Linked DNA regions of Homo sapiens. The protein of the gene in region 2 interacts with the protein of the main gene of each other region in a pairwise test. Each region holds a gene or a part of one and is shown on either strand. Other genes may lie near its edges. The genes, in order: ZNF417, OIP5 and KRTAP13-2.

Region 1 (3,657 bases), on a different chromosome or scaffold from region 2:
CGTAGTGAAAGCCCATCTCTACTAAAAATACAAAAATTAGGTGGGCGTGGTGGAGGGAACCTATAGGCCCAGCTACTTGGGAGGCTGAGGCAAGAGAATCACTTGAACCTGGGAGGCGGAGGTTGCAGTGAGCCGAGACCATGCCATTGCACTTCAGCCTGGGTGACAGAGTGAGACTCTGTCTCAAAAAAAAAAAAAAAAAAAAATTTAGGGATAATATCTAAGCCCATATAACCTGCTGTTATAAAAGGTAACATTTAGGGATTGAGATTTTTTTTTTTTTTTTTTTTTTTTTTTGAGACGGAGTCTCGCTCTGTCACCAGGCTGGAGTGCAGTGGTGCAATCTCGGCTCACTGCAACCTATGCCTCCCAGGTTTAACGAATTCTCCTGCCTCAGCCTCCCAAGCAGCTGGGACTACAGGCACCCACCACTATGCTTGGGTAATTTTTGTATTTTTAGTAGAGACAGGGTTTCACCATATTGTCCAGGGTGGTCTTGAACTCCTGACCTTGTAAGCCACCCACCTCAGCCTCCCAAAGTGCTGGGATTACAGGCCTGAGCCAAAACACCCAGCTGAGATTCTTCATATAGCTGATTATCTTGCCATTTCTAACTTACAAGCTTTATCCACATTTCTTAACCTTTTGTTTCACTAAATGGGACAGGAAGTTTTAACTCTTGTATCCATGAAGCATCTTAGTAAAATAACAGATATTCCATTTGCAAATTATGCTCCCCAAAAAACACAAACACATATGTAAAAAATGTTATAAAGACATTAAGTGTCCACTCAATAACTTTGATTCAAACTATCTTCATGTTCTTCACTTCACAAGATAAAGCTCTTAAAATGGACTTTGTGAGGTTCCATGTGTTTGGTCAGTCATGAGAGGAAGAATAATTCAGAGTGAGAGGAAACAAGAGAGATTCTAGGCAGCCCTCAGGGAAGCTGAGGAGGTGGCTCCCTGCCTCCGGGTCCCTCAGAATGTCCCATCTCCCTGTCAGTATCAGTGTCCCAGATAATCTTCTTCTGACTGGGACATTTCCCAATTTGGGAACAGTGGTTACTTGCCAAATTCACATTTACGGCCAAAACTGTGGCTACAGTGTCGACATTCATGCAAGTGGGGAAATGGGCATGTGGCCCCTGAAAAAAGATTCTGGATTCCATAATCTCACCTTGCTGGCAAGAAACTACCATTTCAGCAGAAAGTGCAATGACAGTGTCTGCACAGGGACTGGAGATTATCTCCAGAAAAGAGCTTGGAGTGAGGAAATTAGTTAATGTGGATGAATGACGTTACCCATGGAGAATGAAGTAAGTAGCTAGAAGACAAAAGCCTCAGAACACATAAATCTCAACGGGTACTGAGTAGAGGACTCGGAGCTCTGAGGTAATTGGAGCTCATGGCTATCCCAGAACTTGGATAACATAAAGTTCTTGTTTCTACAAAGTGTGTATCCTTTCCATATGTGAGAACTCTGAGGAAATACAAACTTGGAACAAAAGAAATAGTAAGGTAATCTTAGAAAGATGTTGAATAGAAAGCAAGCTACGGTGACATCTTAACTGTTTCACTGCCCAGCAATCTATACGTATTGTCACTTGGGGACACTTATGATTCCACATGAAGTGGATAACCAGCTCATAGCTCTTGTGGTACTGAAAACCAAGTATTTGGCCGGGCATGGTGTGGTGTACTCGTAATCTCAGCTCCTTGGGAGGCTGAGGTAGGAGAATCACTTGAACCTGGGAGGCCCAAGTTGCAGTGAGCCAAGATTGCACCACTGCACTCCAGCCTGGGTGACAGAATGAGACTCCGTTCCAATGCGAAGTCTCTTAAGACCAAGGAGAGCAGACATTCTGATGTTTCCCAGATTGACAGCACTCATAAGGCCTTTCTCCAGTATGAACTCTCCTGTGTTTAATGAGACGGGATGTTTCAGCAAACGATTTCCCATATTCACTGCACTCATAAGGCCTTTCTCCTGTGTGAACTCTGATGATGAAGGAGGGTAGAGCTTCGCTGAAATGTTTTTCCACATTTGGTACATTCATAAGGCCTTTCTCCAGTGTGAATTCTCCTGTGTTTAATGAGACTGGAACATTCAGCAAAGGATTTTCCACATTCACTGCACTTATAAGGCTTTTGTCCAGAATGAACTCTTTTATGAACATGAAGCGCAGAGCTGGAAAGAAATGATTTCCCACATTCATTGCATTCATACGGCCTTTCTCCAGTGTGAATCCTCTGATGTATAGTCACGCAGTTCTTATTACCAAATAATTTCCCACATACCTCACACGCATATGGCCTTTCTCCAGTGTGAACTCTCTCATGAACGAGAAGATGATACTTCCTGTTAAATAATTTCCCACATTCCCTACAATTGTAAGGTCTTTCCCCAGTGTGAAGTCTCTGGTGTTCAGTGAGGTGGGATCTGTACCTAAATGATTTCCCACATTCCTTGCACTCATAGGGCCTTTCTCCAGTATGACCTCGCTGATGTTGAACGAGGTTGCCCTTTTGACCAAAAGATTTTCCACATTCTCCACACTTGTAAGGCCTTTCTCCAGTGTGAACACGCTGATGGTTAATAAAGCAGAACTTCTGACGAAAAGATTTCCCACATTCCCCACAGTGATAAGCTCTCTCTCCAGTGTGACCTTGCTGATGTTGAATGAGGTTACCCTTTTGACCAAAAGATTTCCCATATTCTCTACACTCATAAGGCCTTTCTCCAGTGTGAACACGCTGATGGCTAATAAGGCTGCCCTTCTGACTAAAAGATTTCCCGCACTCCTCACAGGGATAAGCTGTCTTTCCAGTGTGGACTCGCTGATGTTGAATAAGGCTGCTCTTTCGACTATAAGATTTCCCACACTCTCCACAATCATAAGGTCCTTTTGCAGTGTGATCTCGCTGATGATTACTGAAGCTGACATATCTGCTAAAGGATTTTCCACAATCACTGCACACATAACATCCATCTCTAGTGAAAAGTTTCTGGTGTGGAATAACTGAGTGTTTGGTGCTGAAGGCTTTTGTGCGTTTTCCACAACTGTAATTAGTTTTTCCCTCCTGAAAGGGTGGGCCATGCATAGTTTCACTGTCTGTCTTCTCTACAGCAGCTGCTTCTTGGCACAATCCTGAACTGGGCAGAACGTCCTTCCCAAACTCGCGGAAGACAAATGGCTCCTGTGACACCCTGAGCTTACGTTTCTTTACAAACGATGCTTCTCTGACACTCTTTCTGTAGAATTTCTCTCCAATATGCTGCTTCTGGTGCTGATGAAGGTATGCAGTGTCATCCAAGTTTTTTCCACATGCTCCACTCCTGTTCAGCTTCTGCTTGTGATGAGTTTCCTGGTGGTCAGCAAAGTGAAAAACATCCTCCAAGATGAGGCCACACATTTCACAGGGGTGAGCCTTCTTAGGAGAAACACCTGCCCTAGGAGTCCTGCTCTGAGACTCTCTTTGTACAGAAATTCTCTGCTTACAAGGTGCCTCCTCATCTTTTGATCCACACCAACAACCTGAGAGCAAGAAAATGCTGGTCAAGTGCAAAGTACCTCTGACGGGAAGGCACAGCCCACCCACAAGTACGTCTCACAAATTGAGGAATTAATCTATAGAAATATTTGCAGGAACACA
Region 2 (3,657 bases):
AAACCCTGTCTCTACTGAAAATACAAAAGTTAGCTGGGTGTGGTAGGGCACACCTGTCATCCCAGCTACTAGGGAGGCTAAGGCAGAAGAATTGCTTGAAGCCAGGGGGCAGAGGTTTCAGTGAGCCGAGATAATGCCACTGGACTCTAGCCTAGGTGACAGAGTGTGACTCCATCTCAAAAAAACAAACAAACAAAAAAGCAGTATCTGCAAGTGCAGTAAAACACAGTATATTTTATTGAATATTACTATAAAACAAGGAAAAGAAAATTGCAATAAGTTCAGATAGTGAGATTAATGATATAGCGGTGCCTCAGTGGCTAAACCATGGTTTATGATTTAAAAAAATTTATCCTAAGTTGACCACTGTAGAAGAAAAAAAGAACTTCATTCCCACACTTTGCCTCTGATCATGTGTATAGTCTGTGGCTCCTTATTGTTTTTTGTTTGTGATTTTTTGAGATGGAGTTTCGCTCATTCCCCAGGCTGGAGTGCAATGGCGTGATCTTGGCTTACCACAACCTCCGTCTCCTAGGTTCAAGTGATTCTCCTGACTCGGCCTCCCAAGTGAGTAGCTGGGATTACAGGCGTGCACCACCACGCTTGGCTAATTTTGTCTTTTACTAGACACGGGGTTTCCCCGTGTTGGCCAGGCTGGTCTCGAACTCCTGACCTCAGGTGATCTGCACACCTAGGCCTTCCAAAGTGCCGGCATTACAGGTGTGAGCCACCGTGCCCGGCCCCATGTTTTTAACAATCTTACCACAGTAGGTACTACGTCTCTAACCATCCGTGCTGAGCTGCTTTGGGTTGCCTTGCTCTGCCACTAAGGGTTAGCATCACCTAGCTTGCTGGGCCTTCCATCATTACATTGGATCATGGGCACTGGAGAATATTATAGGAGGAAAATACTTCCAATACACTACCAAATACAACTGTTTCTCCATATCCTTATCAGTAGAATGAGGTCAACTAGATTATGTTATTTTTTTGGTTATAACAGTCTGTGAATCTACAAGACAACAGGAAGTAATACCAAAGTGATGAAGAGTTGATTTACTGTATGTGATTTGTTTCAAAATACTCCAGGAATTAAAAAAAAAAAAAAGTGAAGAGTATAGAGGAAAATAATTGTCAAAATATTAATAACTGTTGAAACTGGGTACCTGGGGCTTATTATAGTGTTTGTGGTATGTTTAAATTTTTTTTTTTTCTGAGATGGAGTCTTCCTCTTGTCACCCAGGTTGGAGTGCAATGGTGTGATCTCGGCTCACTGCAACCTCCGCCTCCTGGGTTCAAGCGATTCTCCTGCCTCAGCCTCCCCAGTAGCAGGGATTACAGGCGCCCACCACCACGCCCAGCAAATTTTTGTATTAGTAGAGATGGGGTTTCGCTATGTCATCCAGGCTGGTGTTGAACTCCTGACCTCGTGATCCTCCCGCCTCGGCCTCCCAAAGTGCTGGGATTACAGGCGTGAGTCACTGTACCCAGCCAGAATTGGGATATATCTTTAAAAAGAAAAGAGGCTGGGCGCAGTGGCTCACGCCTGTAATCCCAACACTTTGGGAGGCTGAGGTGGGAGGATCACGAAGTCAGGAGATTAAGACCATCCTGGCCAACATGGTGAAACCCCGTCTCTACTAAAATACATAAAATTAGCCAGATGTGGTGGCATGCACCTGTAGTCCCAGTTACTCGGGAGGCTGAGGCAGGGGAATCACTTGAACCCGGGAGGCGGAGTTTGCAGTGAGCCAAGATCCTGCCACTGCACTTCAGCCTGGGCTACAGAGCAAGACTCCATCTCAAAAAAATAAAAAATAAAATAAAATAATTGAAAAGAAAGGCTGAGTGCAGTGGCTCATGCTTGTAATGCCAGCACTTTGGGAAGCAAAGGTGGGCAGATCACTTGAGTTCAGGAGTTCAAAACCAGCCTGGGCAACATGTTGAAACCCTATCTCTACAACAAATTAGCTGGGCATGGTGGTGCATGCCTTATAGTCCTAGCTACTTGGGAGGCTGAGGTGAAAGGATGGCTTGAGCCTGGGAGGCGGAGGTTGTTCTCCATCCTGGGTAAAAGAGCCAGACTCCATCTCAAAAAATAAATAAATAGAAAAAAGTTTCTTATAAAGATCCTTACCAAAATATTTATGGATGGAATGATGTAATTTCAGGTATCTGCTTCAAAACATTGTGGAGGATAGATATTTTGTTTTGTTTTAGAGATGAAGTCTCGCTATGTTGCTCATGATGGTCTTGAACTCCTGGGTTCAAGTGATCCTCCCACCTTGGCCTCCAAAAGTGTTGGGATTACAGGCGTGAGCCAGCATGATAAGCCAACTATGATTTTAGATGAAACAAGATTGGCCAAGAGTTGATAAGTGCTCTAGTTTAGTGACAGGTAGACAGAGGTTCATTATATTCTTCTCTCGGGTTTGAATTTGCCATAACAATTAGAAAAAAATGTACTTCACTTATAATACAAACAAAATTCCATTTAAATATGCTGTTGAGCACAACAAAAGCTCAGGGTAAAAAAGCTATTTCTAAGTGTCAACATACTATAATAATCCTTTTTAAAATTAGTTACAATAAATCCTCTACCAGTAAGAGAACAATAAAATGTAGACGGAAGTAACCTTGTATCTGTCTACTTTATGACTTTGAATCTAAGAGGTTCATGCCAATTGTAGAATGTTTAAATAAATGTCGGAGGGAGTATATTTTAGGAGTATTCAAATATGACAGATTGAGAGGGATCAATTTATTTCACATGCCTCATTAAGAGTAAAGTTAAGGCCTGGTGCGGTGGCTCACACCTGTAATCCCAGCACTTTGGGAGGCTGAGGCAGGTGGATCACAAGGTCAGAAGTTCGAGACCAGCATGGCCAACATGGTGAAACCCCGTCTCTACTAAAAATATAAAAATACAAAAATTAGCCAGGCATAGTGGCGTGCGCCTGGAATCCCAGCTACTCGGGAGGCTGAGGTAGGAGAATAGCTTGAACCCGGGAGGCGGAGGTTGCAGCGAGCCAAGATCCCGCCACTGTGCTCCAGCCTGGGTCAGAGCAAGACTCCATCTCAAAAAAAAAAAAAAAAAAAAAAAAAAAAGAATAAAAAGAACCCGAGTCTGCTGTCTCTAAAATTTATGCTCTTTTAGCTGCATCATTAATCATCCTCTTAATTCATTCTCTGACCCCATCTAGGTAATGAACCTACACTTAGAAAAAAATCAAGTTGTCTTGAGCTGTGCCATTTCATAACCCTCTTCGTAAGTCCCATATAGCTCATCTTACTCCACAAATACAGAAACACATGGGGCTTTCCCTCTAGTTTTTTTTTTTTTTTTTTTTCAGACGGAGTCTCGATCTGTCGTCCAGGCTGGAGTGTAGTGGTGCGATCTTGGCTCACTGCAACCTCTGCTTCCCAGGTTCAAGCCATTCTCCTGCCTCAGCCTCCCAAGTAGCTGGGACTATAGGCGCTTGCCACCTCGCCCCCCTAATTTTTGTACTTTTAGTAGAGACGTGGTTTCACCATACTGGCCAGGCTGGTCCCGAACTCCCGACCTTGTGATCTGCCTGCCTTGGCCTCCCAAAGTGCTGGGATTATAGGTGTAAGCCACTGCACCTGGCCTTCCTCCAGTTTTTTACAAAGCATCTA
Region 3 (3,039 bases), on a different chromosome or scaffold from region 2:
CTTTCTCACACACACACAACACAAACACACACACACACTGAATAATTAATTTTCTCCTATATTTAAACACAACCGTAATGTCCTCCAGTACCTAACATTTCATATTTTCCCTTTTCCATCATAACATTTCAGATTTATTCAAATATTTCATAATTTTATATTTAATCACCTAGTTGACATCTTCTGAGAAAACTCTAAATACTCTTTTAAAAATGTAAACAAAAAGCAAATATGATTGTCAGCAAAATGTGTCTTCCTTGAAAACACACCACCATTATGAGTGTACTCTCAATAATTCTGTTAAGAATCCAACCAGTTTTCATGGCAGAAGACATGCACTTGCTCAGTCTTTTAGGCACTGGCATGCCCGGAGAATCTCCCCACACACTAGGCCTGATGACATTACCGATGGAAATGGATGTCCAAGGAAAAGACGTCTGGGGGCCTGGAGCCCCCAAAACAGATCACAAATCAAACTTTGGAAACCAATAAAAGACAAAGAGAACATATTGGAATCAACAGTAAATGAATTTATTACGTGAAACAAAACTGAACTTCCATATACTTTATAAGATGAACTTACGTGATAACGAATCACTTGTTTCAAAATTATAGACATTTGACTCTATATTTTGCTCATTCATTAATTTCACAGTCTGAAAGAACTAGCCTGTCCAGCCAGTACTTGATGCCAGAGAAAGGATGAAGAGCTAGTAGTAAGAGGGGTTAGCTCACATTGCTGGAAATGCCTATGATAACAGCTCTACGTAGAGACTGAGACACTTTGCTTAAAAGGTCTGGAAATTCAGCAAGTTGATCTGCAGAAGGTTGATCCATAGGCTGGTCTGTAACAAGGAGACTGGCAGCTCCTAGAAGCCAAGTAGGTTGGGCGGCAGAATCCAGATCCATAGCCGAGGGAAGGGAAGCCACAGCTTCCATAACCCAGGGATCTGACACCACTGGACCCACAGCCCACTGAGTAGCAGCTCCTCGATCCATAGCCCAGGGAGCGGCAGCTGCTGGATCCAAAGCCTAGAGACCCAGAGTAAGTCGTCTTGCAAGGACTGCAGAGCAAGGAGGTTCTGGGGCGGTAGCAGGAGGTCTGGCAGGGGCTGGACTCCACATAGGACGTCTGGCAGCTGGTGGGCTCCCAGCAGATCTCCTGACAGCCCCTATAGAGAGAGGAACCCAGCTGGCAGGTGCTGGGAGAGCAGAGGTCAGTGCTGTAGACCAGATTGCTGGGGTAGGAAAAGCCACGTGAGGATGCTGGGTAGCGCAGGTAGTCACCACAGGAGCGGGAGGAGAAGTTTCCAGAGCAGCAGTTGTAGGACATGTTGACGGGAGATGTGAGTTCAGCTGAGTTATAGTGGAAAGATTCTCTGAGTTTGAATGTCATAGTCTGGACTCCAAGTTATATATGCTCTTAGACCTGGGTGTGTCCACTGTCTCGACACTCCCTTCTCCTTGCTCACTTTTTATTATAAGAATGCTTCCCTAGGTTATTGTTTAATTTATCACATCTTCATATACTTACTTGTACTTTAGTCACTCTGGAACACTTAGAAGGAAGCCACTCAGTTTTTTTTTTTCCTGGAATTCACTGTGGTTTGACCTTCAATGTTATATGTCATCACATTTATGAGTATCTTGCCTCTTATTATTTGAGTACAGTGAGTCCTTATTGTACCAAATGGAATTACACAAAATTCTTTCTTTACTTCCCTTAAGTTATCAGGAGCATCAGTGGTTACTACTCAAAATAGATTGTCCTTCTTTTTAACACAAGCATATTATTTGTTACCAGAAACGGAGGATTTCTCCAAATACTAACTGTATTCAGTAGCCTCAGCAATCTGTCAGTTAAACCTTTTACTAGTACCTTAAGAGCTCAGGATCAGAACTGAGGAGTGCAGCATTATGTTGGGTGTCCATATCAGGCATCTTCCTTAACAAGAGGCTACTTTAGACAATGCTCACTTAGGAAACAATAAACACAAACTTTTTAGTAAGACTTTAAATTGAAGTTTTTCAGATATTTTCTGATGAACCTATCTTGTAGCAAGCACTATTCTATGGTTATGCTCTAAATCAACTCATAAATTTTATTTTGTTTTATGTTTCAATTTTTTTTTCTGGATAAAAGGACAGATTCTTAGCTGCAATTATTAATTTATACTTAAACTTTGAGGAATTGTTAACATTTTTCTGAAGCTTTTAACTTGAAGTATTAGAGTTATATGGGTCTTTAAACATCCCCTGTTCAACCCATACATGGAAAAATTACCTCTCAGAGAGCTTTAACTTTCCCCTAATTTCTCAGTAAGATAGAAGCAAAATTGAAGCTTTAATTATGGTTTTCTTATTCAGAGTCAAGTTGCAAATACCTTGCAAATATAAAAGTAAATTCAACTTTAACTTGTCTCAGAAAAGAAACTATTAAGCTTATTTATACTAAGATATAAAAGCCTAACAAAGCCTTATTTACTTTTCCTAACAATATTCACACTGAATAGTGTTCAACTGGGGAATTCTATGCCTTACTGATCTTCATACATTTGAAGTATATTTCACTTCCTAGCCCAAGAAAGAGAAAGAATATTGGTAATCCATGTTTAGATTAATGGGGGGAAGAGGCTTCTTATCTGTGTCTATTCTTCTTCTTTTGAATTTGACATTTTATTTGGTTTAACTAAGGGAAATGGCATTCACAATGGTTATCGAAAAGAGAGCCTCTTAACTACCTGAAAATTAACTTCCTTCATTCCAAAGCACACTGTTTCAGAGCACTTAGTTACTTTGTTTTATGATTATCTCTCCCATGCAGAATCCAAAGTGTGGCATGCATCACATGAAGTGCCCTTGTGCAATACTTAAACCATCACTCTGATTCACTGAAGTAAAATAAGCTGTGCTTTATGAATGGACACCTATTAAATTCACCAAAAAGTATGCACCACCCCCAACACATGGGATTCCTTATAATGGCAGCTTTTAACACCTTTAAAATGAGAAATATTTTTCTTTTCTTACTACAGGTTG

The links.
Region 1: the proteins of OIP5 (region 2) and ZNF417 interact in binary tests that used the Homo sapiens proteins (3 or more experiments, as listed by UniProt).
Region 3: the proteins of OIP5 (region 2) and KRTAP13-2 interact in binary tests that used the Homo sapiens proteins (3 or more experiments, as listed by UniProt).

Annotation. Positions count from the first base shown.
Region 1 is NC_000019.10:57,906,576-57,910,232, forward strand, and holds part of ZNF417 (zinc finger protein 417), read right to left. Parts: intron 3,540-3,657; coding exon 1,975-3,539; 3' UTR 1-1,974. UniProt on the Homo sapiens protein: May be involved in transcriptional regulation.
Region 2 is NC_000015.10:41,325,984-41,329,640, forward strand, and holds part of OIP5 (protein Mis18-beta), read right to left. Parts: intron 1-3,657. UniProt on the Homo sapiens protein: Required for recruitment of CENPA to centromeres and normal chromosome segregation during mitosis.
Region 3 is NC_000021.9:30,370,881-30,373,919, forward strand, and holds KRTAP13-2 (keratin-associated protein 13-2), read right to left. Parts: upstream 1,392-3,039; 5' UTR 1,334-1,391; coding exon 806-1,333; 3' UTR 510-805; downstream 1-509. UniProt on the Homo sapiens protein: In the hair cortex, hair keratin intermediate filaments are embedded in an interfilamentous matrix, consisting of hair keratin-associated proteins (KRTAP), which are essential for the formation of a rigid and resistant hair shaft through their extensive disulfide bond cross-linking with abundant cysteine residues of hair keratins.